4 separate regions of the Homo sapiens genome follow, and all the other regions are linked to region 3. The links come from fine-mapping of genetic effects on plasma protein levels. A gene starts in region 3. Each other region holds a variant in brackets. All regions are shown on one strand. Distances are between the middles of the regions.

What was found. PIP is the chance, under the fine-mapping model, that this variant and not a neighbour inherited with it causes the effect. Protein levels are from antibody-based Olink assays in UK Biobank. Linkage for the fine-mapping came from a reference panel and not from the study's own genotypes, which makes the PIPs less certain.
Region 1: its variant is fine-mapped to the plasma level of the PDCD1LG2 protein (UK Biobank, PIP above 0.99). The variant lies in the coding sequence of PDCD1LG2. If it changes the protein, the assay may bind it differently, which can mimic a change of level.
Region 2: its variant is fine-mapped to the plasma level of the PDCD1LG2 protein (UK Biobank, PIP above 0.99).
Region 4: its variant is fine-mapped to the plasma level of the PDCD1LG2 protein (UK Biobank, PIP above 0.99). The variant lies in the coding sequence of PDCD1LG2. If it changes the protein, the assay may bind it differently, which can mimic a change of level.

Annotation. Positions count from the first base shown.
Region 1 is chr9:5,530,630-5,538,629 of GRCh38, forward strand. It overlaps PDCD1LG2 (programmed cell death 1 ligand 2), which reads left to right. Exons shown (of 7, transcript NM_025239.4): 3 at 4,116-4,421. All of the region lies in intron 1 of INCR1 (interferon stimulated noncoding RNA 1), which reads right to left. Among named protein-coding and RNA genes, the nearest start is that of PDCD1LG2, 24 kb to the left of the region's middle. RefSeq lists an enhancer at 940-989. The variant C/G (reference allele first, on the strand shown) is at 4,295.
Region 2 is chr9:5,463,323-5,471,453 of GRCh38, forward strand. It overlaps CD274 (CD274 molecule), which reads left to right. Exons shown (of 7, transcript NM_014143.4): 5 at 2,177-2,284; 6 at 3,448-3,507; 7 at 4,518-7,232. The coding sequence ends at 4,540. All of the region lies in intron 2 of INCR1 (interferon stimulated noncoding RNA 1), which reads right to left. Among named protein-coding and RNA genes, the nearest start is that of CD274, 17 kb to the left of the region's middle. The variant G/A (reference allele first, on the strand shown) is at 1,987.
Region 3 is chr9:5,506,552-5,514,694 of GRCh38, forward strand. It overlaps PDCD1LG2 (programmed cell death 1 ligand 2), which reads left to right and starts at 3,980. Exons shown (of 7, transcript NM_025239.4): 1 at 3,980-4,252. All of the region lies in intron 2 of INCR1 (interferon stimulated noncoding RNA 1), which reads right to left. RefSeq lists enhancers at 2,528-3,727, 3,669-3,748, 3,809-3,868, 4,029-4,078.
Region 4 is chr9:5,518,516-5,526,658 of GRCh38, forward strand. It overlaps PDCD1LG2 (programmed cell death 1 ligand 2), which reads left to right. Exons shown (of 7, transcript NM_025239.4): 2 at 4,018-4,086. The coding sequence starts at 4,032. It overlaps INCR1 (interferon stimulated noncoding RNA 1), which reads right to left. Exons shown (of 3, transcript XR_007061406.1): 2 at 6,021-6,114. Among named protein-coding and RNA genes, the nearest start is that of PDCD1LG2, 12 kb to the left of the region's middle. The variant TG/T (reference allele first, on the strand shown) is at 4,060.

The DNA of each region.
Region 1 (8,000 bases), 24 kb after region 3:
GGGCAAGTTGCATCACTTCTTTGAGCCTCAGTTTCCCCATCTGTAAAATGTGGATAGCAACATCTACCTCGCAGAGTTGCTGGGAGGATCAGATGAAATGATGGGCTAGCCCAGTGTCTGACTTACTGTGTTTAAGAAATATCAACTATTACGCTACTTCCCAGTGACAGTCCAAATGCAGACCAGTGTTATAACTCTACTTCTCAAACATTAATGTGCATGCAAATCACCGTGACCTTCTTAAAATGCAGATCCTGATTCCCTAGGTCTGGGGAAGGCTTGAAATTCTACATTTCTACCTAGCTTCCAGGTGAAGTTGAGGACAACACTTTGAAGGCAAGGTGGTAAAAGACGCTTGCACGTGCAAATGTTACTTTGTGTAACTAATGGTTCGCAATACTGTCTGCACTTTAGAAGCTCCCAGGAAAAGAAAATCTTTAATGATGCTGACCTCATCTCCAAAATAATGTAATTTTAACAGATCCAAAGTAGTGCCTGGGCATTAGTGTGTTTTAAAAGCCTCCCAGGTGATTCCAATGTTAGCCAAGATTGAGGCCCTCTGCTTAGTGAATCTAATTTGCAGCTGGGCTTGAGAAAAAACCTCTTCATAGAATTGTTTGCATCAGTGTCTTGATTGCCTCTGTAACTTACAATAAGCAAGAATGTTTCAGGATTTCAAAAATCTATTGCATTGCCTAAACCTCTTATTTTGTATGGAGTAATCAAGCTCAAAGTTTGCATGTCTTAGAAACTTTACTTGGGGCAAAATTAGACCAAGTAACAATTAATCTTCTAGGTATTCTGAGCTATTCAGACATATGATTCATGTTTGCTAATTGCTCTTTTCTCTTGTAAATATTAGCTGAAAAATGTCACCTGTCTGACAAGTAGCATATTTTATGCCTATCACTCCTGGCACGCATTCTTACAAGGCAGACAGGAAAAATAGGAAGAAAATGGACTTTTATCAAAGGCCCAGGCAGTAAAGAGGGGAGTTCTGCTGTAAGCTAAGGGGAGTTCCAGAGGAAGTTATAGGCGTTCCCTTTCTTATGACAAGAAAGCATAGTGCAGTAAATAAATTTGCTAAATAGATTCAACAGTCTCTACCCAAAGTCATCTATTTAATTCTTGTTGTTATGCAGACTCAGCAACTAACCTTCCTTGTAAGCCCCATTTTCTTCCCTGTTTCCTGTTTATCAAATGTAATTAAACAAGAGAAGTATTATAGAAGAGTAAAAGTAGTAGGTAATTCTTGAACTTGGCATATGATTACTACATATTTGATGAATAGTTGAATATTATTCTTCAAGGACAGATTGGATTTGGTATCAGGTGGCTCTGCATTAAGTTATAAGGGACTTAATAACTCAAGTATTTAAGGACGGCTTCCATCATAAAGGGATCTGCCCTTAAGAGGGTCCCATTATGGAGATTCTGAGGTGAGAGCTATTCCAAGTGTGCAGTGGATTAAAATAAAAGAATCATACAGGAAATCTCTTTTTACATGCCTTATTCCAGGGTCTTTGCAACCTGGCACAGCAAGTGCAGATATGATTAGCATTGTTTTACACATGTACACTCACCTTATAGCCCTGCCCCTGTGCCCCTCCTGCACAAAAGAATGCTGGGCACACGTGAACTCCTCTCTGTAGAAAGGCACATTAATGTTCTAGCCATGGTTAAAACAGGGATAGAGGCAAGCCAAAAATGTCGGTCATTTGAAATAAATCTCAAGTTTGTGCATATCACTATCAAGTGTGCTGTGTGGCAATTAAGAATGCCAATTTGTGTGATCACAGGCAAGTTGCAGTTTGATGAAAGGAAAGCAGAGGTGAATATATAACCAGGGTCATCCTTTCTTTCTCCCTCTCTCTCTTTCTGTCATTTATTTGCCAAGCTCTTAACTAGAACTTGCTATGTGCTAGGTACTGGATATATCAAAGCAAACTCAGCCTGGTCTTTGCCTTCAAAGATTTGCAGGATAGTGGGAAGAAAAACTTGAATCAGAGGACATCTGCAGTGGGAATCATTCAAGCAGCAGAAAACCCAAAAGTTACTTATACTGTGAAATCTGATCAGAGAATGGACTGTCCTGGTTAGTAAAATATCCTGGAGGATAAAGATTGGCCATGCATTCCACATATGAATTACCACTTTCCCAAGAATTAAAACATGGTACGAAAGAAAGGAACGAACATTTGCTGAGTGCCTACTGCCTGCCAGATCTAGGCACTTCACATGTAACACCTCGTCCAGCCTCCACCACAATACTGAGAGGTAGAGTTCAACCTCATTTTATAGATAAAGAGGCTGAAGCTCATAAAGATTAAAGGACGGACTCACAGTCAAAGGACTCCTAATCCTGAGTCAGCATTTGAACCCAGGCTCACCTGTCACTATATCCTATGCTCTTCCGTATCACATTTTATACTGAAACAACTTCTGGAATAGCTAATGCTTAGAAGCAGCTCCCAAATATTTGTTGAATGAATGATTTGATTGAATGAATGAATAAATGAATGAAGCAAGCTCTACTGAACATAATTTGATCTAATCTTCTGTGATTATTCAGAAACTACTTCAAGATTTTCCTATACCTCCATCATAATGAATACCCATTCATTAATGATGGAAGCAGCCTAATTTTGTCATTTTTCACACTTTATTGATGTAACACTACCTTTACTAGTTTGGCCACTCCTTATGCTTTTTTTATAGAACTATTTAGATCAATTCAACTTTTAAAAAATAAAGCCACATACCCCTGTGGTAGATGAAAAACAAGTATCATTTGCACTGGTAAATAGAGAATAGGAAGAAAAATAAATGCAGTGAAAATAAAGCAGTGTTATCAAATCCTACCCAGATACTGTTATCTACCCGGAAGCTTCCTGTTTGATTAAAAGGAAAAATAGCCAGTGTTAGAGGTGTGGAAGTCTAGTTGAAATTATATGCAATTGAAGGATTAAAATAGAATTGAAAAGGGAATAAATTCCTCTCTGAATAATTTAACTCCCTTTAGGCTTTGATTCTGCCTCATCTAAAATCATCTTACATACTTCTAGTGGCGTGTCCCTCACATTTTGGTAAACTCTGAGTGGAAACTACGGATTTTGTAGTCAAACATCTGACTGGCTCTGGATTTTAACTTTACTAACATATGTCCTGAAGTGAACTGCTTGGAGCCAGTTTCCTCAACTATATAACCATAATGACAAAACAGGTTTCACGGTCATGTTTTCAGTATTAAACAATATAGTTAAAAGTACCTAGCACAGTGCCTGGCATAGAACATACTAGATATACATTAAGTATCAGTTCCATTTTTCCTTTCCCTTTATTGTCAGAAAATAGAAAGCATCTACAGTGGGCTTGTATGATGTGGTGGTTAGAAATACCTGATCTGATTCTGGCTGTGCAATCTTGGGCAAGTTACTTAACCTTTTTGTGCCTCATTTTTGTTTTCTGAAAAAAAGGATAGAATATTATTACCTACCTTGCTGGCTTCTGGGAAGAAGCTCAGTGAGACGATGTGTTAGCAGAGTGTCTGACAATTGTAAGAATTCAACAAGTAATAGTTATTATTACCATCACTGGTGAGAGGAAGTGATACCTGGCACAAAAATATATGGATTAATCAATATGGATTGAGGGAAACAAACCTGGAGAATAGGATGTGAAGGTATTTAAGTAACATGAGCTCAGACCTTGATGGTAGGGAAGTCGAAAGGAAGCATTTTGTTCTTATATGACAGATGACCTGGAATGACTGCAGGGCTTGGGGGGTCAGGGACTGGAGGTGGGAGAGGCCTCTGAGAGCAAGCAGTGCTGTCCACCAGAAGCTCTTGCTGGGGTGCCCAGAGAGGAGCAAAGGGCAGTCAGCTGCACAGGAGGGAATGTTTGGAGGAGAGAGCCACCTCAGATCAGCGGGTCAAGAATCCCACTCTTGCCCAGATGGATGGGGCAAAGGAGAAAAAGGATTCGCCACGGGAATGTCCAGATAAGACAGGTGCCTTTTGGAAAATGGGGGTGAGATGGGTCTCAGGTTACACTTCGTAAGAACTGGAATGTAAAGTAAAGGCAGACAATGACAAAATATCTTGTTTTCTTTTCAGCTTTATTCACAGTGACAGTCCCTAAGGAACTGTACATAATAGAGCATGGCAGCAATGTGACCCTGGAATGCAACTTTGACACTGGAAGTCATGTGAACCTTGGAGCAATAACAGCCAGTTTGCAAAAGGTGGAAAATGATACATCCCCACACCGTGAAAGAGCCACTTTGCTGGAGGAG[C/G]AGCTGCCCCTAGGGAAGGCCTCGTTCCACATACCTCAAGTCCAAGTGAGGGACGAAGGACAGTACCAATGCATAATCATCTATGGGGTCGCCTGGGACTACAAGTACCTGACTCTGAAAGTCAAAGGTGAGTGGTGTCAAGGACTAGAATCCATGGAAGCATCTCTCCAACAGAGGATCTGCAAGTCACAGAAACCCATTAAAGGTAGCTCAAGCAAAAACAAGCAGGCTGCTTTTAAGGAGACAGCTATTTCAGAGAAAATGAAAGCATCTGCTCGGAAATAATTTTTGACATCTGAGTACAAAGCAGCCGAAGTACAAGTGAAAGGGGGTAGGACCTATAGGAATAAAATGGGACTGGAGGAAGCCAGGAAAATTAGTCCCTGAAATGTGGGAGGGTATGAAAAATAAGCTTTGCCTAATTCACAATTCTCCCATGGAACATCCCTGACTTGATTATTAAGATACTCTTTTTCAATAGTTTATACCCTGAATCCAGAGTTTTTAAAACCATGGTTTGCCGCCCATTCATGGATTAAAATATCAATTTAGTGAGTAGCAACCAGATGCACGTTTCCCGCCCTTTAAAAAATAATGTATAGAAGAGAATAGACAGAGTAGATCAGACGACATCACAGAGTAGGACTGAGTACTGTAAAACTAATTTCTGAGGGACGTGTGTGTGTGTGTGCGTGTTGGGTCATGGTATAAATTTTTTTTTTCTTACTTTGGATCATAAAAAGTTACAAGTTTGGAAAACACTGCTCAAATGCAAGCCCTATTTATTGCAGATGAAGTAGCTGAGATCCAGAGAAGGGAAGTGGGTAGCCCAAGAGAGTCCCATGAAGTCTATAGCTGTCCCTATTCCTCTGGATTCAGGGATCTCTCCACTCCAGCACAATTGAAAATCTAAATATAAAGAGAATCTTCACACTCTTGTTTGTTCTAGAAAAGGTGATTTGAGGAAAGACATATAACAACTATAAAAAATAGATTTTGCTTGTTCATTGGCTTATGGTCTCCAGGCTTGAATGCTCTGAGATAAATGATGCCAATATTTCTCTGGCCTCTTCCCCTCCCACGCATTGGACCTCAGATGGTCTGTACTGTCTTCTAGAGGGTTTGTGGGTTTTGGCCCCAAAAAACCATTAACCTTGGCAGAAAGTGTGTGACTTTATGATCTGGTACAAAGAAGGACAAACTAGAGGGACTGGACATGAGGATGAATATTGTGTTCGCCCTTATCCTTGGGCAGGTTATTTTGCCTTTCATAACCTCACATTTTGCTTATTTGTAGAAGACGAACAATAGTAGTACCAAACACACAGGATTGTTGTCAACATTGAGAGAGATAATGAACATAAAGAACTGAGCATGGTACCCGGCATATAATAAGTGTCCAGAGACTTGGTTAAAAGACCCTCAGTTGTTACAGGGGCAGTGACCTCCTCACACCTCAACCATCAATGAGTCACCAGGAAAGCCATTAGCCTAGATGTAACTGTTTTCTATCTTTATTGCATTTCCTACATCCAGGCAGCAGCTGGGAGGAACTCTAGAACACTGAAGTTTGTCTGAGTTCCCTTAATGTAAGGCTGTACATTCTCAGGATGCCTTGATGTACTCGAATATCTGCAACCCTAAATCACCACCTCTGTTTTTATTGATCTCTATCTGAATGCTGTATTAATGGGCCAGGCCTTCTGCCCATTCTCTCAAACTGAGAACTGTCTCTCATTCCTGGGGAGGCACCCTGCCTACTCCTTACCTAGATCAGGGATTTCTCAGTTGTGGAGAGATTTGTTCCTTATAGTGTTGGTCATCAAACTGGGATATTTGGGGATTACAAAGACTTTTCAAGGGATGTATGGGCACAGGCAGTTTTAGGAAGTGAGTTCCTAGATCCTCATCTTCCCCAAATACTCGTTCCCAAAATTGACGAGCCTGACAATGTGCATGCCAGGCAAGGCTCTTGGGGTTCCCCTAAAACACTTCCTCTTTTAAGCCTACCACTCACTCATCATGAATATAGTCCATTGTCCCAGGGTGTAAAACCCTCTATAGTGTTAAATAAAAGAATGATTGGGAACATTGACACCTGATGGAACTGTTATGACTAAAAACCCTTTTGCAAATAATGTGGTATCTAATTTTCTGCTTTCAACAAAATTGAAGGAGGCCCTTATAAAGTTAATAACTGATAATCAAAAATGAGTAATTTTTGCCATGTAAATCAGGTCAAAGAATGAAATGGCATTGCTGTAACGAAACTGCTTCCATTCCCATTGATTTACTCATACGAACAAGATTCCTTAGCCTTTATAAGCTACAAAAAAATGAAAAATAGAAATAGAATTGAGGCTGAATTCTATTATATAAAATCATTCCAACCATGTCATATGGTTCTTCGGATTCATGAATAATTTGGAAAAGAGAGCCATATCCATCTTATTAAGGGACACATTCCCAATAAATTTTCATCTTTCATGTTTAATAATTATCAATATTCATAACATTTTACATTTTGATCAAATATGTGTTAATAATAATAGAAATAAATGTCCAACAACGATAGACTGGATTAAGAAAATGTGGCACGTATACACCATAGAATACTATGCAGCCATAAAAAATGATGAGTTCATGTCCTTCGTAGGGACATGGATGAAGCTGGAAACCATCATTCTCAGCAAACTATCCCAAGGACAAAAAACCAAACACCGCATGTTCTCACTCATAGGTGGGAATTGAACAATGAGAACACATGGACACAGGGAGGGGAACATCACACACTGGGGACTGTTGTGTGGTCGGGGGAGGGGAGAGGGATAGCATTAGGAGATATACCTAATGTTTAATGACAAGTTAATGGGTGCAGCACACCAATATGGCACATGTATACATATGTAACAAACCTGCACGTTGTGCACATGTACCCTAAAACTTACTGTTAAAAAAAAAAATTAGATCTTAATGCAGAACACCCTGAACATTTAAAGCTTCATAGTCACAAGAGAAAAGTTTTCATTTCAATAGCTATAAATATTTTGTTGTTGTAAAGACATATAACGATAATCAATACAAAATCTGTCAAACAAAAATATGTTACATTAAGATAAAATTCTGTAGGGAAGGTGAAATTGGAAGTGAGTTTCAATGAATGAAAAGAAACAATTTAGACAGAGAAGAATTTTTTCATTTAATAATTTATTTATTTTTACTTAGAAGGAATTGAATAGATTAGGTTCCTTACCCAAAAAGCCTCTGTTATTTGTCTTATTTATTTATTCTCTTTTTTCCACATTCTCCAGTCTCATTCCCCTTTTTTAACACAGGAAATTATTCCAGCATGTTTCATACATATTCTTTTGTTTGTAAGAGCTTATTTAAAATATGTAATATTGTTTTAGATGCATATATTTTTTTTCTTGTGGAAACTATATTGTACTATATATATATATTTTAGAAATGGACACATTAGGCCGGGCGCGGTGGCTCACGACCGTAATCCCAGCACTTTGGGAGGCCAAGGCGGGTGGATCATGAGGTCAGGAGATCGAGACCATCCTGGCTAACATGGTGAAACCCTGTCTCTACTAAAAAATACAACAAAAATTAGCCGGGCGCGGTGGCGGGCGCCTGTAGTCCCAGCTACTGGGGAGGCTGAGGCAGGAGAATGGCGTTAAGCCGGGAGGCGGAGCTTGTA
Region 2 (8,131 bases), 43 kb before region 3:
TGGAATATACCTTTTGTTCCATGCATTGTAGTACTCATTGGATACACATAGAATAATAAGACTCAGTTCACACTCTTCAGGAAACAGATAAAAAACTAAGAAACAAACAAAAAACAGGCAATCCAACACCATGTGGGAAATGCTTTCATAGCCGGGAAACCTGGGGAATACCTGAGAGGAATACTCAATTCAGGCCTTGTTTCAGGAATCCAAATCCTGGCACATCAGAGCTGCTTCCCTCTTTCCAGGGTGGCAGGAAATAAATGGAACATATTTTTCTATCTTATGCCAAACATGAGGGACCCTTTCTCCCCGGTGCCTCTCCCAAGGTAGTCTACAATATTTCAACTCTAGCAGTCTGCTTAGTGCATAGAACATGAGGCTGTGTGTCCCTGGGCAAATTACTAGACTTCTGTGTGCTTCACTTTCCCTGTAGGATTATAATCTACTGAGCAAGCTTATTGTAAGGGTCAGATTAGCAACAGTGTATGAAAATGATTTGAGACCATTGCCTGCACAAATTCAACTATTTTTTTTTATCTCACTACTCTACAGAAGTAGGTAGGGTGGGAGACAGAGTCTGATGAGAGGCTCAGAATGTGAAAGAAAGTGAGGCGAGTGAGCATGATATTTAATATAAACACAAAGATATTCTGAGAAGAGCTGCTCACTGCCCCCTCCCCCAATACATGTTGATAGGAAAATGCCACGTACTTCAGCAAAAACAACTGAAAAATTAGATAGAAAAGTCAATCAATAGGAAAAGATAATCCAGGACGGTGTTGTGAACAGAAAGAGGGGGAAAAAACTTTAGAAAATGATGGGGATGCTCTTACTGGGGTACGAGTCCTCAGGTATTGAACTGGCTTTCAGTAAAAGCTAGATTAGTGGGTTCCTGCCATTTACAAGCTGTTTTATGACAACTTACTTGTTGGGTGGCCTACAGTAACTCACCTAACTGCACTGAGTCTGTTTCCTCATCTGTAAATTGGGGATTTTTTTTTAAATACCTGGCATGCCTAACTCATAAAGTTGTTCTGAAACTGAAATAAAACATACGTGAACAGGCATTGTAAACTGTAAGTTACGGAAAAAGCTGGCTGTTGTTGTGTCTTTAAAGTTTCACCTGGGTAGTCAAAGATGGATCATGGGTCTCAGTGGAGAGCTGAGCCAGGCAGGAGCTGACTAAGGGTGAGAGGTGGGAGTTAGCAGCCTCTGAACATCTGTGTACCATGGGACCCCCTTTCCTCCTGCATGGTACCCCAGACAAGGAGCCTAGTAAGAGATACTAATGGCTTGTTGTCCAGAGATGTTCAAACTGCAGAGAAAGATAAGACAACAAGCATTGGCCTCCAATCATGATGACAGATAGGAGGAGGTGGGAGCTCCTTAGCAGTGCTGGTTGGCCTTCCATGTTCTACTGTGGGCCATCTCTGCCATGTACTGTAGGCTACTAGCTTCTATATTAAAGAATGCAAGAGGGGCCAGGAGCGGAGGCTCATGCCTGTAATCTCAGCACTTTGGGAGGCCAAGGTGGGCAGATCACTTGAGGTCAGGAGTTTGTGACCAGCCTGGCCAACATGGTGAAACTCTGCCTTTACTAAAAATATAAAAATTAGCTGGGTGTGGTGGTGTGCACCTGTAATCCCAGCTACTCGGGAGACTGAGGCACAAGAATTGCTTGAACCTGGGAGGCGGAAGTTGCAGTGAGCCCAGATTGCGCCACTGCACTCCACCCTGGGCAACAGAGAAAGACTCTGCCTCAAAAAAAAAAAAAAAAAGCAAGAGGAAGTGAAATAATCAAGGCCGCCATTTAATAGTGAGCAGCCACTCCATGTGGTACTGTGCAAGCACATTATAAATATTAGCCTCACAAGAAATGTATTAGCATTTGTATTTTGTACACTGGTTAAGTATCTTGCCCAAGACCTCAAAACTGGTTAAGGGCAGCAGAATTTAGCCCCAGCACCACCTTTTCAAAGCCTG[G/A]GCTTCTCACACTTCTCCATGCTGTTCCCATTTTAACACAGGTATCTCGCCATTCCAGCCACTCAAACTTTGGCATTTAAGAAAATTATCCTAAAGCTAAACTAAACTTCAAGGATGACCATTCTCCTGACCCCTTCCCATCAAAATTTTATCTTTAGTCAGTTTGTTTTCGTTTTGTTTTGTTTTTCAGAACTACCTCTGGCACATCCTCCAAATGAAAGGACTCACTTGGTAATTCTGGGAGCCATCTTATTATGCCTTGGTGTAGCACTGACATTCATCTTCCGTTTAAGAAAAGGTAGTATTTCCTTAATTGCAGTGGTCTCCACTGGGGGTGAGGAAGGGGTGAGAATTGGATCATGGCTGCAAGGAAACCCGACTTAACCTCTGCAAGGTGGTGCAAAGGCATTCCACTGTTCAACAGCAATTATATTGAAGCTGAGTGGGATCACTGGGTGAAGATGAAGCGTAAGGGGTGAGGGGCAGGAGAATGGGTATGGATGGAGGTAGAAGATGCAGTGTCATACAGTTTTTTTCTATCATGAAAATAACCACAGACTTACAGAAGAGAAAGAGCTAAAATGCCCGTCATTTTCAGTTGCATTTTAGTCTTGCATTAGTTGCAACCAGCTGGTTTCTGGGTACCCTAAGTAATAAAAATAGTTCCTCTGTAGAACTGTAGTATGTTTACCATAGAGTATTTTGCAAAATTTTTGGTAGAGGATGTTACATAATTTGCATGTGTTCATTTCTCCATTTACCTGTGGGAACAATTAAAATCCAGGAAAATGAGTATATTCAAATAATTTCCTCCCATTTAAGATGAGTCAGAGTAAATAATTCCTCCAATACTTAGAGAAGTATACCAAGAGATCCAGTGATGGTATAGAGTTGTCTGATGTTAAATAGGGAAGTAGAATATGGAAGGGGATTCCAATAGTCGTTGAAAAATTCCCCATAACCCCTTACATGGGGGAAAGTAGTGTTAACTGAGAGAGTAGAGATAAGCTGTTTCCAAAAATTATATTCTTAACAGGACTGAGATAGCCAGAATATAAGGATCAAGTTTCAATGACAGTAAGATCCTGAGATGGAGTTGATTTGCACAAAGAAATAATTGTTGCCAGCATGCATTTTGAATATTTCTCTGGAAAAAAAGATTAGTTGGCAGTAGAAATGGATAGAAATCAATAGATATTAAAATACCTCAGAATTTGGTTCATCTCTGGGAAAAGATGAAAAATAAAAGTGTATACTCCTCAAGAACATCTAGGATCAAAAGCATGTGCCCTACACTATTGAATTAATTAACCTCATAAGTTGGGACCTGTGGAATAAGGATGTCCACCAGACTTCCTAGGGATTACAAATGTTTCACAGAACTTGAAATTTAAACTTGGGTCACTGTATGGGATGTAGAGCTGTGCTATATGGAAATAAAAATGATTTCTTTTTCTCAAGGGAGAATGATGGATGTGAAAAAATGTGGCATCCAAGATACAAACTCAAAGAAGCAAAGTGGTAAGAATATCAGAAGGAATTGGGAAGTAAAAGTCAAAGGAAACAAAAAGCTAAAGCAATAACAAAGAGAAATCCATCAGTCATAATCTCCTCTCCTTTTAAAGAATGCTGGTTCCCCTTTGCCTCACAGCTAACACAAGAACTCCTCCACCGTCTGAGGAGGTTTAGGAGCAGGGAAGGGGAAGGAGTCAGCTTCATTTGCTAATCTTCTGTTGCCCTGCACCCTAGCAGCTCCTTGCAGCAGGGGACAAGGATGACTTAGGTGGATGGATAATTAATTGATTCTAAAATATTGTGTGTCAGTATTGTAATACTATGTTAATTGCACCATGCACGGTATCTCATTTAATCCCCCACCCCTTGCCATTACCAAAGAGAGAGAGAGAGAGAGAGAGAGAAATACTAGAATTTATCCTCATTTTACAGTAGAGAAAACAGAGGGTCAAGAAGATAATGTAAAGTGCCCAAGAACACACAGCTGATCACAAAAATCAAGCTTGGGGGCCATTAGCCTAACCACAGACCCTTACTCTTAACCCATCTGCTTCAATCCATTTTGCTACAAATGTTTACATTTATAAGCAGGGCAGAAAAACCTCATCCAGGTTATTGAACTAAGAAGAAAGTTATATTAAGGTTTCTAATTTTTTTAATGTAGTTAGAAACCAAACTTAACAATGAGCCCAAGTTTAAAGCAGTCTAATTAACCTGGACAAGCTCAGGCAAGTTTCATTCTGTGGCCCATAGCATCATCTGTGTTGTAAAGCTAAGTAGCAAATGTTGTTTGGGTCATGCTGGGGGACAAGCCATCCCAATTTGCTCAGGACTGAGGGGTTTTCCAGGATATCATGTAAGGATAATTGGGTACAAATATAACCTGCTGCTTTCTCTCATTTCAAATTTATCATTTATCATATCAGCAACTATGAGTTATGTTTTTTATTAGATTTCTTGTTACTTTTTCCCCAGACCACTTCCCATGAAATTAATATACTATTATCACTCTCCAGATACACATTTGGAGGAGACGTAATCCAGCATTGGAACTTCTGATCTTCAAGCAGGGATTCTCAACCTGTGGTTTAGGGGTTCATCGGGGCTGAGCGTGACAAGAGGAAGGAATGGGCCCGTGGGATGCAGGCAATGTGGGACTTAAAAGGCCCAAGCACTGAAAATGGAACCTGGCGAAAGCAGAGGAGGAGAATGAAGAAAGATGGAGTCAAACAGGGAGCCTGGAGGGAGACCTTGATACTTTCAAATGCCTGAGGGGCTCATCGACGCCTGTGACAGGGAGAAAGGATACTTCTGAACAAGGAGCCTCCAAGCAAATCATCCATTGCTCATCCTAGGAAGACGGGTTGAGAATCCCTAATTTGAGGGTCAGTTCCTGCAGAAGTGCCCTTTGCCTCCACTCAATGCCTCAATTTGTTTTCTGCATGACTGAGAGTCTCAGTGTTGGAACGGGACAGTATTTATGTATGAGTTTTTCCTATTTATTTTGAGTCTGTGAGGTCTTCTTGTCATGTGAGTGTGGTTGTGAATGATTTCTTTTGAAGATATATTGTAGTAGATGTTACAATTTTGTCGCCAAACTAAACTTGCTGCTTAATGATTTGCTCACATCTAGTAAAACATGGAGTATTTGTAAGGTGCTTGGTCTCCTCTATAACTACAAGTATACATTGGAAGCATAAAGATCAAACCGTTGGTTGCATAGGATGTCACCTTTATTTAACCCATTAATACTCTGGTTGACCTAATCTTATTCTCAGACCTCAAGTGTCTGTGCAGTATCTGTTCCATTTAAATATCAGCTTTACAATTATGTGGTAGCCTACACACATAATCTCATTTCATCGCTGTAACCACCCTGTTGTGATAACCACTATTATTTTACCCATCGTACAGCTGAGGAAGCAAACAGATTAAGTAACTTGCCCAAACCAGTAAATAGCAGACCTCAGACTGCCACCCACTGTCCTTTTATAATACAATTTACAGCTATATTTTACTTTAAGCAATTCTTTTATTCAAAAACCATTTATTAAGTGCCCTTGCAATATCAATCGCTGTGCCAGGCATTGAATCTACAGATGTGAGCAAGACAAAGTACCTGTCCTCAAGGAGCTCATAGTATAATGAGGAGATTAACAAGAAAATGTATTATTACAATTTAGTCCAGTGTCATAGCATAAGGATGATGCGAGGGGAAAACCCGAGCAGTGTTGCCAAGAGGAGGAAATAGGCCAATGTGGTCTGGGACGGTTGGATATACTTAAACATCTTAATAATCAGAGTAATTTTCATTTACAAAGAGAGGTCGGTACTTAAAATAACCCTGAAAAATAACACTGGAATTCCTTTTCTAGCATTATATTTATTCCTGATTTGCCTTTGCCATATAATCTAATGCTTGTTTATATAGTGTCTGGTATTGTTTAACAGTTCTGTCTTTTCTATTTAAATGCCACTAAATTTTAAATTCATACCTTTCCATGATTCAAAATTCAAAAGATCCCATGGGAGATGGTTGGAAAATCTCCACTTCATCCTCCAAGCCATTCAAGTTTCCTTTCCAGAAGCAACTGCTACTGCCTTTCATTCATATGTTCTTCTAAAGATAGTCTACATTTGGAAATGTATGTTAAAAGCACGTATTTTTAAAATTTTTTTCCTAAATAGTAACACATTGTATGTCTGCTGTGTACTTTGCTATTTTTATTTATTTTAGTGTTTCTTATATAGCAGATGGAATGAATTTGAAGTTCCCAGGGCTGAGGATCCATGCCTTCTTTGTTTCTAAGTTATCTTTCCCATAGCTTTTCATTATCTTTCATATGATCCAGTATATGTTAAATATGTCCTACATATACATTTAGACAACCACCATTTGTTAAGTATTTGCTCTAGGACAGAGTTTGGATTTGTTTATGTTTGCTCAAAAGGAGACCCATGGGCTCTCCAGGGTGCACTGAGTCAATCTAGTCCTAAAAAGCAATCTTATTATTAACTCTGTATGACAGAATCATGTCTGGAACTTTTGTTTTCTGCTTTCTGTCAAGTATAAACTTCACTTTGATGCTGTACTTGCAAAATCACATTTTCTTTCTGGAAATTCCGGCAGTGTACCTTGACTGCTAGCTACCCTGTGCCAGAAAAGCCTCATTCGTTGTGCTTGAACCCTTGAATGCCACCAGCTGTCATCACTACACAGCCCTCCTAAGAGGCTTCCTGGAGGTTTCGAGATTCAGATGCCCTGGGAGATCCCAGAGTTTCCTTTCCCTCTTGGCCATATTCTGGTGTCAATGACAAGGAGTACCTTGGCTTTGCCACATGTCAAGGCTGAAGAAACAGTGTCTCCAACAGAGCTCCTTGTGTTATCTGTTTGTACATGTGCATTTGTACAGTAATTGGTGTGACAGTGTTCTTTGTGTGAATTACAGGCAAGAATTGTGGCTGAGCAAGGCACATAGTCTACTCAGTCTATTCCTAAGTCCTAACTCCTCCTTGTGGTGTTGGATTTGTAAGGCACTTTATCCCTTTTGTCTCATGTTTCATCGTAAATGGCATAGGCAGAGATGATACCTAATTCTGCATTTGATTGTCACTTTTTGTACCTGCATTAATTTAATAAAATATTCTTATTTATTTTGTTACTTGGTACACCAGCATGTCCATTTTCTTGTTTATTTTGTGTTTAATAAAATGTTCAGTTTAACATCCCAGTGGAGAAAGTTACTTGGAATATTTGCAGCCTTGTTCCTAGTTCTTTTTTCATTGCTTATACAGCATGTTTTTATACAGCATGCTTTTGAATCCTGCACAATGAAAAAAGTATCAAAAGATTTTATTTTAAAAAAGAATGTATTGAAAATTTTCATTCTCTCTCATTCGGCAGCTTCCTTTAGGACCATACCAAGAAGAGTCAAAATCCTGTCATCTACATTGAAGATCTAAGGGAGAGAGGGTGGGAGAGAAGGAGTGGAACCCAATAGAACTATAGGGAAACAAAGGGACTTACCTCTAAGAAAGTACTTTTCCCAGATCTGTAAACGGGTATGCAATCCAGTGTGTAGGAAGATAGATGTATTGCAGTCTTCAAGTTTTGAAAATAAAGCGAGGAAACTAGAACTAAGCCAAGTTGAGGATTAAGGGCTAGCAATGGTTAGGACCATAGATCTGTGGTTTTAAACAAGCATGACAAAACTTATCATTCAAGGAAGTATAGACCTTTTAATGTGTCATCCGGTGAGATTTTAGTCATGAAATTCCATTTTAAAAGACTATCACTTATTTGAATCAGATACTCTTAAAGGATTATAATGGCTATTTCTAAGAATATGTGTTTGACTCTAGATGCTTTTGTTTGTTTGTTTTTGAGACAGAGTTTTGCTCTTGTCACCCAGGCTGGAGTGCAATGGCACTATCTCAGCTCACTGCAACCTCCGCCTCCAGGTTCAACTGATTCTCCTGCCTCAGCCCCTCGAGTAGCTGGGATTACAGGCACCTGCCACCACTCCTGGCTAATTTTTGTACTTTTAGTAGAGACAGGGTTTCACAATGTTGGCCAGGCTGATCTCGAACTCCTGACCTCAGGTGATCCACCCATCTCAGCCTCCCAAAG
Region 3 (8,143 bases):
TGCTCATGGATAGGAAGAATCAATATCATTAAAACGACCAAAGCGGTTTATAGATTCAATGCTGTTTCCACCAAACTACCAGTGATATTCTTCACTGAACTAGAAAAAAATATTTTAAAATTTATATGGAACCAACAAAGAGCCCAAATAGCCAAGGCAATCAAAGCAAAAAGAACAAAGCCAGAGGCATCATCCTACCAGACTTCAAACTATACTACAAGGGTACAGTAACCAAAACACCATGGTTCTGGTACAAAAACAGACACATAGACCAATGGAACAGAATAGAGAACCCAGAAATAAGGCTGCACACCTACAATTATCTGATCTTTGACAAAGCTGACAAAAACAAGCAATGGAGAAAGGACTTCCTACTCAATAAATGGGGCTGGGATAACTGGCTAGCCATATACAGAAGATGGAAACTAGACTCCTTCCTTACACCAGATACAGAAATCAACTTAAGATGGATTAACAACTTAAATGTAAAACCTAAAACTATAAAAAACCCTGGAAGACAATATAGGCAATACCATTCTGGACATAGAAGTGAGTGAAGATTTCATGACAAAGACACCAAAAGCAATTGCAACAAAAGCAAAAATTGACAAATGGGATCTAATTAAACTAAAGAGCTTCTACACAGCAACAGAAACTATCAACAAAGTAAACACACAACCTACAGAATGGGAGAAAAGTTTTGCAAACTATGCATCTGACAAAGGTCTAATATCCAGTATCTATAAGGAACTTAAACAAATTTACAAGAAGAAAACAAACAACCCAATTAAAAAGTGGGCAAAGGACATGAACAGGCGTTTTTCAAAAGAAGACATACACATGGCCAACAAGCATATAAAAAAGCTCAATATTACTTATCATTAAAGAAATGCAAATCCAAATCACAATGAGAGATCCTCTCACACCAGTCAGAATGGCTATTATTAAAAAGTTAATAAGTTGGCCGGGTGCGGTGGCTCACACCTGTAATCCCAGCACTTTGGAAGGCTGAGGCAGGTAGATCACAAGGTCAGGAGATCCAGACCATCCAGGCTAACATGGTGAAACCCCGTCTCTGCTAAAAATACAAAAAAATTAGCCGGGCGTGGTGGCGGGCGCCTGTAGTCCCAGCTACTCAGGAGGCTGAGGCAGGAGAATGGCATGAACCCAGGAGGTGGAGCTTGCAGTGAGCTGAGATCTCACCACTGTACTCCAGCCTGGAAGACAGAGTGAGACTCCATCTCAAAAAAAAAAAGTTAATAAACAACATGCTGACAAGGTTATGGAGAAAAGGGAATGCTTATACACTATTGGTGGAGTGTAAATTAGTTCAACCATTATGGAAAGCAGTGTGGCAATTCCTCAAAGAGCTAAAAACAGAACTACCATTCAATCCAGCAATCCCATTACTGGGTATATACCCAAAGAAATGTAAATCATTCTATCACAAAGACACATGCACACACATGTTCATCATAGCACTATTCACAATAGCAAAGACATGGAATCAACCTAAATGCCCATCAACGACAGACTGGATAAAGAAAATGTGGTACATATACACCAAGGAATACTATAGAGCCGTAAAAAAGAGCATGTCCTTTGCGGGAACATGGATGGAGCTGGAAGTCATTATGCTTAGCAAATTAATGCAGGAACAGAAAACCAAATACCACATGTGTTCACATATAAGTGGGAGCTAAGTGATAAGAACACATGGACACAAAGAGGGGAACAACACAAACTGGAGCCTAGCTGAGGGTGGAGGCCCCAGGGAGGAGGGAGATGAGCAAAAAAAAAAAAAAAAAAAAAAAAAAAAAAAAAAAAAATGACTGGGTTCTAGGCTTAGTATCTAGGGGACAAAATAATCTGTATGACAAACCTCCATGACACGAGTTTACCTATGTAAAATAAAAGTTTAACAAAAAACTAAAAAAGTTACCTATGTAAAACAAAAGTTTAACAAAAAACTAAAAAAAGTTACCTCCACCCAGAAATGCCTTTATTAACACTTTGGTTTGTAACCCTCCATTATTTTCTCTAGACATATAGATTTATGAGGCAGGCTAATGTGCTGAGACACTAGCTTGAGTTTCATTTGGCCTTGCTGTGAATATACCTGGGCCTTCCTTTGCTTCAGGATGCCCTAAACTGTGGCAAAGCAGAGCTGAACTGCCCAAAGGAAAGTGTGAAGAGGAGAGGCAGGCCAAGCCTGGAGAAAGGCTACCCAAGAGAGAGGAAAGGAAACTGTGGTGAGTGCACCTCACTCCTAAAGAAGGACAGGAACTCTGGTAGGTGAGGTGTGTTTTCCATAGATACTAAAACTCAAAGCCACACAGGGGACATATGTCCATTCCTCAGCCAGTCACTGTGGCCAGGAACAGAGGGTCAGGTAAGAGAATGGCAACTCCTAAGGAAACCACATGCCTGGAGCCGTGGGTGTAGAAGCAGATCCCCAGAGGAAGCACGGGTCCCACAGACACAGTCCCAACTCTTGCCGTCTAGGCAGCCACTCCCATCTGTAGGTACTACACAGCTTCGTAGTACTTCTTAAAGTACTTCTTGTTCAAGCGATGGGACGAAAAGAGGATGCAGGACAAGGAGGAGGAAAGGAGATCCTTGCTTTTGTAGAAGAAACAAGGAGGCAGGGAAGGCTTAGAGGACAGGCAAGGAGAGATGTTTTCTTAAAAACATCCTCTGTCTGAGTGTTCAGCCCCACATCTCTGCTGGTCCTACCCCTATAAGCACAAGGAAAAGGGCGGGAGGCAGCAGGAGAAGGATTGATCATTCAGGCCTATATTCAAGTTTGCCTTTTCTTGCCATGTGGTTTTAATCTCACCAATCACAAGCCTGAAGGTATAGTGGGGCCACTGAGGTCCGAGTTCAAATTCAGCCATGCAACTAAGGAAACATTGTTTGATCTTGGTCCTGTTTTCTCATGTGTAAAATGGGTCTAACTCTAAACCACACATTGCACTGAGAATGAAATGAGGCACTATGAAATGAAGTGAGGTTAGTTGAATAATGTTCCCCCCAAATTCATGTCTACTGAGGACCTCAGAATGTGACTATATTTGGAAGTAGGGTCTACGCAGATGTAGTCTAAATGAGGTCATACTGCATTAGGGTGGGCACTAATCAAACGGATGGTATCCTCATAAGAGGAGAGGAATGTAGAGATACACACAGAAAAGAATGTCATTTGAAGATGGAGGCAGAGATTGGAGTGATACAACTATAAGTCAGGGAATGCCAAGGACTTGAGGTCATGTGTTACAGAAGCCCTAGGAAATGAGTCAATTTCCTGGCACAGCACTAAGACATGCTGGTATTCTTCATTCCATCCCTTTCCCCTATTCCTAAATGTGCTCCAGGGACAATGGGGAAGCTGGAGCACATATAAGAATAGGGGAAAGAGAGGGAATAAAAGGGTATTAAAAACTCTCAAGGTATGTTAAAAAAAAGACTCTCAACAAACCAGGTATTGAAGGAACATACCTCAAAATAATAAGAGCCATCTATGATGAACCCACAGCCAACATCACACTGAATAGGCAAAAGCTGGAAGGATGCCCCTTGAAAACCGGCACAAGACAAGGCTGCCTTCTCTCACCACTCCTATTCACCATACTATTGGAAGTCCTGGCCAGAGCAATCAGGCAAGAGAAAGAAAGAAAAGGCATCCAAGAAGGAAGAGAGGAAGTCAAACTACCCATGTTTGCAGATGACATAATTTTATATCTAGAAAATCCCACAGTCTCAGCCCAAAAGCTCCTTAAGCTGATAAACTTCAGAAAGTTTCAGGATCCCACATGAACATACAAAAATCACTAGTATTCCTAAACACCAACCATAGCTAAGCCAAGAGCCAAATCAGGAATGCAATCCCATTCACAGACAAACTGCTAAAAGCAAAACCAAAACTTTCCAAATAAGCCAGGCTTTCGTCAGTTCCTCAGAACTAGTTCTGGTTTGACTCACTCTCATGTTACGGCAAACCTTAAGCTGAATGAACAACTTTTCTTCTCTTGAATATATCTTAACGCCAAATTTTGAGTGCTTTTTTGTTACCCATCCTCATATGTCCCAGCTAGAAAGAATCCTGGGTTGGAGCTACTGCATGTTGATTGTTTTGTTTTTCCTTTTGGCTGTTCATTTTGGTGGCTACTATAAGGAAATCTAACACAAACAGCAACTGTTTTTTGTTGTTTACTTTTGCATCTTTACTTGTGGAGCTGTGGCAAGTCCTCATGTGAGTAACGAGTGGGTTGAGATACTCTCATACTATTATGTTGTGGACCATGATGAGGCTGCCAGGGTGGGGGAAGGGTGGCCTACCTTCTCTCCACACCATTTGAGGCAAGAGACATTCTGCCTCAGAAATTGTGCTGAGGGGCACAAATAAGCTAATGTCCTCCTGCCCCAGATTTCTCTCACTTGTTCCTATGCATATTGTTCTTGTTGCTCAGTTTTATAAGGTGAGATATTTTCTGCACCAAATATGTGCACTGTAAAATAATATAACTATTCTTAAGATTGTCTCTCAGCTTAGAGTTTTCGGAGGCTTAATGGTGAAGAACTTAAAAATCTGTTTTCCTATGACTGACATCTGTTTGTGATTATCCATTTAGCAGACGGTGATCCCTCCAGGCTGGCCTTTGTTTACAAGCTATGCCTAAGAGGCAGCTGTTGGTGGAGGGGGAACAAAAACAAAAAACCCAAAACTATTATCTTAATAACTTATAGAGGTAATCATTATTGAACAAAAGCATGATTTGGGGACTATGGAAAGGCTTATTCTTTCCATATAAAATGATCAGCGAAAAGGTAGAAAAATTAAACAGAACTGAAATAATTGCTATTGATTGCTCACCGCCTGGATGCACTGAGTAGAAGAGCAAAGGCAATGGGTTCATGTGGAGGGGATGGAGGTGGAGAGGCTAAGCCTGAGTGAGATTACCAACTAATCAGGACTTTTAACCCAAAAATACTATGGCTCTGAGGGGCAGGGAATGAGAGACCTAAATTGACAAAATGCAGAGTAAAAATATTCAGTGTGAGCAGTAATGAGACAGTTGTATCAGGGTCAAATACGGAGTTGGCCTGGATGTCCTCCAAGCTCCTTTCCAAGCCTAAGATTCTGTGAGTGGATGAACAATCCTGGTCCTGCTGCTCTTGCCACTGGAACCTGATCTATTTGCCTTCATTATTTGAGGTCTCCCCATCATCAGGCTCTTTGTTGTCTGCTGCTTCAGGGTGTCTTCTCCCCAGATTTCTCCTGTTGGTGAGCTTTTCCATTGAACTGGAGCTCCTCACAGGCAAGAAGCACACCTTTAAGGTTCTCTGAGTCCCAAGTTCCTAGTGCAGTACCTGGCAATACACATAGGTGCTTAGTGGGTGCTTGCCGAATTGTTGAATGGATTTATTTGATGAAATGTCAGGAGAATCACCAGAAATGAAATGTTCGTGTAATGGACAGGGGGAAGTTTGAGGTTGATTTGAAAAAGGAGATGGTAGAGACAGTATTATGGGTCATGCTTCAGAGTTTATTTGCTTTACAATACATTGGACAGCAACCAGTAGATTGTTGTGTGTCATTTTAATTCCACATGCTAATGTCCAAATATGTCATATGTCTTAATTGTTGCATACGTGGGTTACTCTGTAAAGGGGCAACTGTAGTATCACCTCCTCATGCCACACCCTGCTCCACTGTAGCTGGGCTCGATAACCTTCAAATCAACTCACAGAATTCCAGGACAGACAAGAGCATCTGAAAGGTTATCTAGCCCCAGTCACCTCTGATGCCTTCCAGCTGTCTCTAACACACCTGTGGGCTGACTTCCAGTTCTTAGTCTTCACGGCTCCCTATGATGAACTGCCCCTGCTTTGAGGGATTTTCCTCCATTGCCTCAGAAGTACTGCCCTGGGGGAGCTTCTGATGCTCTTCTGACCACCTTGTCTCTGCCTTTTTCACTAGTCCTCTGTTCCTGCTCTCCAAATTTTGGGACGTTCCTGAGTTCAGATCTTTTCTTTATAATCTTTCTTTTATATTCTCCCCATCAGATGGTTCATTCATTCCTCAATATTAACTAACATTTCCATATTAGAAATAACTTCCTTATCTTTAGCCCTAAATTTTGTCCCAAACTCTGGACCTACAATTTTTTGGAATGCTTATGCCTTGCCCAGACTAAAACCAAACTTACTGTCTTCCCTCTAAAATCAGCTCCCCATCTTCTATTTCTCCCTGCCACCCTTCCTCCCCCATGGCTCCAATATTGTCTTGCCAGTCTGGTCTTAAAACCACAGTCAATCTTGTTGCTTTTCTCTTTGTCTCTTGTGCATGGCTGATCAGCAGTCAATTGTTTTGTCAATTGTCTTATATGTTTCTTCTTCCTCTTCCTTGCTTCCTTTTTCTGACCTGAAGTTAGGGCCTTGTTACCAAACATCTAGATGAATACAGTGACCCCCTAATTGAGAGGCTGTCTACCAATTCCACCCACCCTCAATTCTATACTCAAAAAAAAAATTAGATGTAATCTTTTTCAGATACTCCTTTGGTATTGTCACTTAGTTTTTGAGTGACTGCCACTATTTCCCGATTGGCAGCTCTGCCTGGCATTAAGCTCTTGACATTCTCAACCTAAGTGTCCAGCCAAGTTACTCTGTTCATTGTCCCCTCAACACGCCTGTGCATTTGCACCTCTGAGACTGCTTCTGAGTCAGCTATGCACTGCCCTTTAGAATAGCTTCAACCCCAAATCCTACCAGTGCTTCAAAGGCCCAGTTCAAATCCTACCCCTCTGGGAAGTCTCCCTTCCTTTAGTCAACTTCTAGGGCTTTTGCAATTTTATCACTTGTTTTACATCAGTTTTACTATTTTTCATGTGTGAGAGTTTTAACCTTCCAATTATGGTACAATGTCTTTAAGGGCAAGGGCCCTTTCTTAGAGGAAACCCTCTATGAATTCTCCAATGATAAATTATTCTATGAATTCTCACAACTTTCTAATATAAAGGCTTATAAAAAGTGGGAACTCACTGTTTATTGCTTAAAAAATTGAGATTTAATTTGAACTTAAATGCTCTATTAAATTGAGTAGAATAGCATCTTAAGGCTACTGGTAGTCTATCTATGCCACAGATGGTTTAGAGATCAAATAATTACTCATATACCTATGACAGCAGAGTACTGGCTGTAAGATCCCCCCAAAACTCAAATACCTATTGGGTTTGTCAGGCAACAAAAATAAGTGAATCCAGCTAGGTCTAATACAATGGAAAATGGTAGGACCTGGGGCAAACTCTGCATAACTTGCCCAAAGGCATTCAAATTCAGATTATGTTCAGACATTGCTAATTACAATTAGTGTCTTAGACACTTGGCTTCAAAACAGTGGTTAGTTCAGGTATTTCAGATCAATTGGGTATGCATTTATCTAGGTCTTCATGGATAGCCGGGCTCTACTAGACACTGGGAGAGGGAAGAGGCAAATGGGATAAGACTGGCAGTATTTAACAAAGAATGAAGTATTTTACAAACATGATCCTTTAGGCTGGTTATTGTTACACAAAGGAATGATTTGCTAGGATTCTTGAGATACTTCCATAGAATGTCTATGCCTCACTTATTGCACAGACCAGAGAATTCCATAAAAGCACTGGCTGTGTCTTATTTACCCTTGTATACTAGAGCTTGGCACATAGTAAATACCAAGTAAATGTTTTGAATAAAAGAAAGAGATAATTAAAGCTTCAGCACCACAATTATTTGTATTTCATCTATCAGTTTGGAAATAGATCTCCACAGACAGTAGAAATGGCAAGAAACTAGGCCTATAGCAACCAAGAAGTGAAACTGCTAGAACCTACCATCATTTCTGATCCTCTTGCAAATTTTGCTTGAAAAAAATTTCCTCATTTTCTGTTTACGAACTTATCCTCAGAATTTACAGATGTTTCCTTGATTTCTCTGGAAAGATACAACTTCCTAATGCAATTGAGTAAATTGATACTTCTTATGTAGAAATAAGCAGAATAAGCTGGGCAAGGTAGCCCACAACTATAGTCCCAGCTACTTGGGAGGCTGGGGCAGGAGGATCACTTGAAGCCAGAGTTTGCTTGAGGCCAGGAATTCGAGG
Region 4 (8,143 bases), 12 kb after region 3:
TACCTTTCTTGGATATATATGCATCTGAATAAGGAAGGCTATCTTCTGGTCAAGCTAAGGTATGCCATGAGCATTTCCCTGTGGAAAGCACTTAATTCTGTTCCCAGTTGTTACCTGCTGTAAGATCTCCCTTTCTAAAATAAAAACAAGAATACAGCTCACTGAGGACCTTACATTTCCCTCTAGCTACTGACTCATTTCTCTTCTCCTTTTTATAGCACTCTTCTTGAGAGAGTTGCCTATATTTGTTGCCACATCTTTACCCATTCTCTTTTGAACCTATTCAAGCTTTCATCTGTACAAAACTCACTGATACTGTGCTTGTCAGGATCATCCATGACCTCCATACTGCTAAATGCAACTCTCAAGAGTATTTGGCTCTACTGATCACTCCTTTGTAGCACTGTGTTTTAAAATATAGGTTTTATTATTATTTAGGTATGGTGAGGCCAATATATCAGGAAATGACTGTCGTTGAAAAAAGTATGTTGTACTCACAGATCCCAAGAGAAGGGGGGCACACCATGCCACAAAGGGCCACATGGGGAAGCACCAGGGTCAGCCAGGAGGTGGGTGGGGGGTGCGCAAGATCTTTATTGTGGTTTCAACAGGAAGAAATGGGTGAAGCAGGGTGAGTGGATTTAGGATTAGCTGATATAAATAATTTCAGCAGGCTCTGGGGCATAGGGGCTGTCCCTAGTCTTCTGGTACTTGGCCCTGGGGTGATTAAGGCAGTTGCATAGTGTTGGGAATGTGAAAGCCCCCAATAAATGAGGCAGTTGTGGGTATGGGCTCTGAAATGGGTTGGTTTGCATTTGAAAGGTGTGCTCATGGGCAAGTGGTTTACTCTCTCTTAGAGGTTAGAATTGGCTAACCCTGGGAGCGGCAGTCCCTTCAGGGTCAGCAAGGCCCCAGGTGTCAAAGCATCAGAATACAGAAAATAAAATGCATGGATAATACACACTGCCATTTGCCTTTGTACCCTTCCTTTCAATCTTCTCTGCTGGTGACCGCTCTTCACAAAGATCTATAAATGTTGGAATACCCCATGTCTCAGTCCTTGGGCACTCTCTTTCCTATCTCTCTGTAGGTGATGTAATGCAGATATCCATGACTTTAAATCTTTAACACTTCTGCATTGATGACTCCTAAATTTACATCTCTACCCCAACTGCCTACTAAACACCTCCACTTGGCTATCTAATAGGCATTTCAAACCAAATCTACAACAAACGTAACTCTTTTTCCCCTTCCTTAATTTGCTTCTCCCCCAGCCTTCTCCATTTTAATAAACAGCATCTCCATTGCCTTAGTGACTCAAGCCCCAAACTTAGGAATTTTCCCAGATTTCCCTCTTTTTCTCAAACTATATATCTAGCCTGTCAGCAGTTCCCTTCAGGTCTTTTTTCAAACTATAGAAGGCCTAAACAAAGGAAAGACATGCTGTATTCATGAATTGGAAGACTAAATATTATTCAGCTGGCTGTATTCCCCAAATTGATCTATGGATTCAATGCAATCCCTACCAAAATTCCAGCTTCCTTTGTCTGCAGAAATGAGCAAGTTGACCCTAAAATTCATTTGAAAATGTAAGGAAGCCCGAATAGCCCCCTAAAAAAAAATCTTGAAAAAGACTAACAAAGTTGGAGGACTCACACTTTCCAGTTTCAAAACTTACTACAAAGCTACAGTAATCAACGCTGTGTGGTACTGACATAGGATAGACATATAGTTCAATAAAACAGAATCGAGAGTCCAGAAATACATCCTTATATATATGATCAATTGATGTTTTGCAAGGGTGCCAAGACAGTTCAATAGGGAAAGAATAATTTCCTCAACAAATTGTACAGGCACAACTGAATGCCCACAATCAGTAGAACAAATTTGGAACTAAAGTTCTTATATTTAGGTTCTTGATCCATTTTGTTTAATTTTTGTATATGGTATGAGGTAAGGCTCCAAATTTGTTCTTTTGCATGTGGACATCCAGTTGTCCCTGTACAATTGCTCCATTTATATTTATCTTAGCAGAAAATACAGATGTAAATCTTTGTGACCTTGACTAGGCAATGGTTTCTTAGGTATTACACCTAAAGCACAAACAATAAAAGAAAAAAGTAGATAAATTGGATTTTTTTACTTAAAATCAATTTGTGTTTCAAAATTAAATAAAATCAAAATTAAATTAAAACATTTATCCTTCACAGGATTCTATAAAGAAACTGAAAAGACAATGTGCAGAATGGGAAAAAATATTTCCAAATCATATATTTGATAAATAGTTTGGCAATTCCTCAAAAAGTTAAATATAGAGTTACCATTTAATTCAGCAATTCTACTCCTACATATGTACCCAAGATAATTAAAAGTATACATAGACAAAGACTTGTATATGAGTTTTCATAGGAACTTTATTCATAATAGCCAACAAGCAGAAACAATCCAAATGACCATCAACTGATGAATGGGTAAGCAAAATGTGGTATATCATACAATGGAATATTATTTAGTCACAAAAAGGAACGCAGTGCTGATATATGCTACAATACAGATGAACCTTGACAACATTATGTTCGGTGAAAAAAGCCAGCCACAAAAGTCCACATATTGCTTGATTCCATTTTTATGAAATATCCAGAATAAGCAATTGATAGAGACAGAAACTAGATTAGTGGTTGCCAAGGGCCATAGGGAAAGGGAAGGGGAAATAGGAAGTTTCTGCTAATGGGTAAGGGGTTCCTTTTCAGGGTAATGAAAATGTTCTAAAATTGGATAATAGTGTTTGTTGCACAACTCCGTGAACATACTAAAAACCACAGAGTCGTGCACTTAAAAAAAGTTTGTGTTTTAAATATATATACACACTTAGACACATATAACCCTCTTTCGTATATCAATTATACTTTAATAAAGCTGTTGAAATTTTTAAAATAAAATTTTAAAACAAAGAAAAAATATATAAACTCGCCAACAGACCACTTCTCACCCCTACTAGCCCCTCTACTCTAAGCTATCAGCATTTCTGCAAACACATTCCTAACCGATCTCACTGCTTGTAATCTTGCCAGCAACCTCTCCCTCTCAGCAATAGTCTATTGCCTACACCAAAGCTTAGTTGTCTCTTAATGATGTAAATGAGGTTCTATCATTCTCCTGACCCAAACCCTCCACTGCTTTTCATCACACTCAGAGCAGCTCTGCTGTTGCCTGATTTAGATGTATGGCTCCAACAGATTTCCCCTGAAGAAATGATTCCATGGCTGATAAAAGTTGGAAAGCCTCCTCAGTTTCAGACCATTATCAGATTAGCTGTGTGCTCTGTCCCTTTCCTCAACCATAAGAAGTCCATGGATAAAGAAAGCTTCAGAGTAAAGGAGAAAGCATGGGAGGTACAGCAGGACCAAGGTGGGGCATTCGCAGCCCCCACCCTCATCAGAGCCAGTTCCCTACTCTCCCTGTCTAAACCTCTTAGTAAGAGGTAGTTCAAGAGAGGGGCAAACTCAATTCCAGCACTCAAAAGCACTTGACTACTTTGCTCAGTCAACTAGCAAGTATTTATTGAGAATGTAGCTCTGTTCTATGGAGTCTTATTTTCAAGTGTCAGACTCCCAGACATCCAGTCCAGGTAAAGAAGATGGTGTCCATTATTCATTTGACAAACAAAGTTGGGGTTCAAGGGCCAGCTATTGAAAAAAGCTATGGAAAGCTTCATGAGACGTGCAGGTAACTGCCAATATGTGTGGTTCACAAGGACTGGTTCATATTCAGAAACGGCCATTAGAAAAGGAAGAAGAACTTCTCATTTGGATTTATAAAGAGTGTCTTGTTTACTCTTAATTTATATCTTCTCTTCTCCAGGAAATCAACCTATAACTTCTCCTCCCAGCTCCACTCTACCATGGTCTGTCACCTTCCCCAAATGATTTGTTATTCCCCTGTTTTCAAAAGTGAACAAAGAACCAAAGACCCAGCAAAGTTTCACAAGGCCCTGAGACTTTCAATTGTCTATTTCAGATCAAATACAGAACATGATCTTCCTCCTGCTAATGTTGAGCC[TG/T]GAATTGCAGCTTCACCAGATAGCAGGTAAGAAAGGACAAAGGGAGAGGCTTAAGAAAGAAGAGCAGGTGGTGGTTCCTAGCCAAAGCCAAAAATGAGAATGTGGCCCTCAGGCTGAGGGCTTTCTTTGAGAGGACGTATGATTTCTGGGCTATTCCAAGCACCACAAAAAAAAAAAGAGTCCCCATGGTGGCTTATACATGCCAATGTCCCTATCTGACAGAAACGGTGACTGAGAATATTGCTCCATCTATTCCCACTATCCAGTGAGGGTAATGACAAGAAGACAGGATCACTCAGACCATGTAAATCTAAACTGATACAAGAGGGCAGGGGTTGAGTTCCCTTAAAGGTGAGATGCCAAGCAGCTGTCCCCTTCCTTTCTGGCAGGGAGAGTAAGGAGACAATGGCCAGGGAACACCGTTACTCTAAAGATAATGTCTTGAAGACATTCTGCATATTATTAGTTGTTTCTGTGAGTTTCTTTTTTGAAAAGCAACAATAGCAGCCGTTGGTCATTCATACCTTAATGTGGTTTACTGAGTCTTCCTAAAACCCAAATGAACAATGAACCTTAAGGCTATCCCTTTGGACTTGAAGAAAGGACTTCTATTGGAGGATGAGGGTGAGCAGAAAGAAAAGCAGTTTCACAGTTGGTTGTTCTCCTGGGGAAGGTAGTTCAGACCATTCGAGGGTGTAGTTAGAACCATGAGTGCACTATTTTGGATGAACACCAGGAGCTAAGAGAGTAACATAGAGGTGTGGACAGAGGATTAAGTCCTCAAGACAATAGCCCCAGCCCCATGGGAAATCATCTTTCTGCTCATGATTGAGAAATAATGGCTCCCTTGGCACTTGATAACCTTTCGAAGAGCTTTCTCCTCCCTACTAGCTGGTTCCAGATCACTCTTCACCCAGTCACATTCCTCTCACTCACTTGAGCTGCCCAGCCTGGTCTGGCACTAGAGACATGCACTTGGGGCCCTCCTCAAAGGAAGACCCTGAGATATTCTGCTTACTTCTACTCTGCTCCTGCCTGCAGGGCCAGCTAAAGGAACTTTTCATGTTTTCTTTGCAAGGAACCCTGCCTGGCTGGCATTTTAGAGACAAGCAAAAGGGGCAATAACTTCCTTGCTACAAAACAGCTTCAAGTTTCCATAGAGTGATAAGGGAAATGAGGGCCAAAAGACACTGTTCCCCATCCTGTGGCAGGACTGGGGGCTTCAGGAGAAAACTTGGGGAATGTGTAACCTCTGTGGGTTTGTAGCTTAAAAACACTGAGATCCTGGGTTTTCTGTCTTTGTTTTTTGCCTTTTCTCTTAGGAAAGGAGTGAGCTAGGGTGACAAGGGGCAACATTTTTTATCCCTCATTGGCTCTTTCTACAGAGGAAGGATCTTTTCTTCTAAGATAATCAGCACAAGACAATGAAGATAGGCACTAGCTCCCAGTTAGGTATACTAATGGGGCAAAAGGAAGAGCATTTACATTTATTGAAGATTCACTAAATGCCAGATACTGTGCTAGGCAATTTACATATGGTATAGTTCATTTAATCTTCACAATGATCATTTTGCAGGTGAGGGAACTAGAACTCAGAAAAGGTACTTAATTTCCCCAAGATTACATAGTTATTAGGTGACACCGGCAAGATTTCAACAAAGCTAATGTCCTTTCTACTTTACTGTGCTACCATGATGATGGTAATCAAAAATGGCAGACAACCCATAAATCTTCCAACTTTGGAATAGGTTTTTGCACTGAAGTCTGAATATGGATACGTATTGAATGTTTATTCTGGATATTCACAGAATCAAAAAATATGTGTAATGAATTATGTTGCTGAATTAACTGAAAGGAAAGTAAAAATGTAGCGCTTTCTCATTTTCTTCACGAATTTGGAATTCTTTTCTGCTTTCCACTATGCAGATAACATCAGTTCAGACAAATATTAAATACCTACCTAAATTAGAATGCCTTCTCCTCATGGGATTTTTTTAAAATCTTGTCATTTCATGTCTCTTTAATTAAAGAGTTTTGATTTCAGAGGAGGGTACCTGCAAAAGAAAACAACAAAAAAACTAAAGGATCTGAGAAATAATTAGTGTTTACTTCTGGGGAGGGGAGGAGGTCTGGGATGGGGGTAAAAAGGATAGTCTTATCTATTATGTATATTCAGGTTTTTGTTTTTTACAAGAAGCATGTATTAGGTATTATTTGTATAATAAAATATAATTTTAAAAATACAAGAAATTTCTCATATAAAAATATGAAAGTAATCAGACTGCAACACTCAGTGCCTGAGACAGAGCTACAGCTATCAGGGTGTCCAGACAGACAGAAGATTACATTTTCTTCCTTGCTCCTTGTACAGCCCCAGACCTGCATGCTTCATTGAAAAGAAAAGAAGATACCTGAATTAAATCAATGTGATGCTTAGTACCCTATCAGTGCACATTTCTTTTCTATTTTTAAATTTTAAAAATAACACTTGGCCAGGCGCAGTGGCTCACGCCTATAATCCCAGCCCTATGGGAGGCCGAGGCGGGTGGATCACCTCAGGTCAGGAGTTCGAGACCAGCCTGGCCAACATGGTGAAACCCCTCTGTACTAAAAATAGAAAAATATTAGCCGGGCATGGTGGTGGCCACCTATAATCCAAGCTACTCAGCTGAGGCAGAAAAATTGCTTGAACCCAGGAGGCAGAGGTTGCAGTGAGCTAAGATCATGTCACTGTATTCCAGCCTGGGTGACAGAGTGAGATTCCATTTAAAAAAAAAAAAAAAGAAAAAAAAACACTTATGGCGGTATTCTCAGTCATTACAAATAAATAAAAACAATCCATATGCCCTGGAGAATTTGATTCCAGGAGTAGGTCTAGAAGAACTTCAACTGGAGAATGGATAGAGAAATCATGGTATATTTGCAGAATATATATTATATATATAATAGATAGCATGTGAATAAATTAATTACAAAAACATATGACTACATCTATTATTATATAGCATGTAGATAAATTACAAAAACATGTAACTACATCTATGAATCTTAGAGCATAATATTGAGTAAAAAATAAATAAATAAAAATTAAGGCCAGAAGATAACACATAGCACAATGTCCTTTTCATAAATAAATATATTGCTTAAGCATACCTTATATATAGAAGATAAAGCTTAAAAAGTAAAGAAGAGGCCGGGCATGGTGGCTCACGCCTGTAATCCCAGCACTTTGGGAGGCCAAGGTGGGCAGATCACGAGGTCAGGAGACCGAGACCAGCCTGGCCCGCATGGTGAAACCTCGTCTCTACAAAAAATACAAAAATTAGCTGGGCATGGTGGCACAAGCCTGTAATCCCAGCTACTCGGGAGTCTGAGGCAGGAGAATCGCTTGAACCAGGGAGTCGGAGGTGGCGGTGAGCCAAGATCACGCCACTGCACTCTAGCCTGGGCGACAGAGTGAGACTCCGTCTCAAAAAAAAAAAAAAAAAGTAAGGAAGAGACTGATAAGCCCGATATTCAGGACGCCAGTTACCTCTGGTGCAGGCAGACATACATCATTAGTAATGTGCTAGTTCTTAGGGTAGGTGGTAGGTTCACAGATGTTCATTTTACTTAATTAAATATATTTTGAAAATTTATTTAAAGCTTTCTGTTGTAAAATATATCACAGAGAAAACCACATGAAACAACTATAAAGCTTAACATTACTATAAGGTGATTACTTTTGTAACCACCACCCAGGTTAAGAAGAACTTTGTCAGCTCCCCAGAAATGCTTCACATACCCTAGCCCAATAAAACCTCCTTTGCAAATACTCTTCATAGCACTATCTGATATGCCCTTTATTTTTACCTTTTTTAAATTAAAACAAAACTTTTTAGAGACAGGGTCTTCCTCTGTCATCCATGCTGGAGTGCAGTGGCCCAACCACAGCTCACTGCAGCCTCCAACTCCCAGGCTCAAGTGAGTCTCCTGCCTCAATCTCCTGAGTAGCTAGGACTACAGGCATGTACCACCCGGTCTGGCTAATTTTTTAAACATTTTTAGTGATGGGGTCTTGCTATGTTACACAGGCTGGCCTCA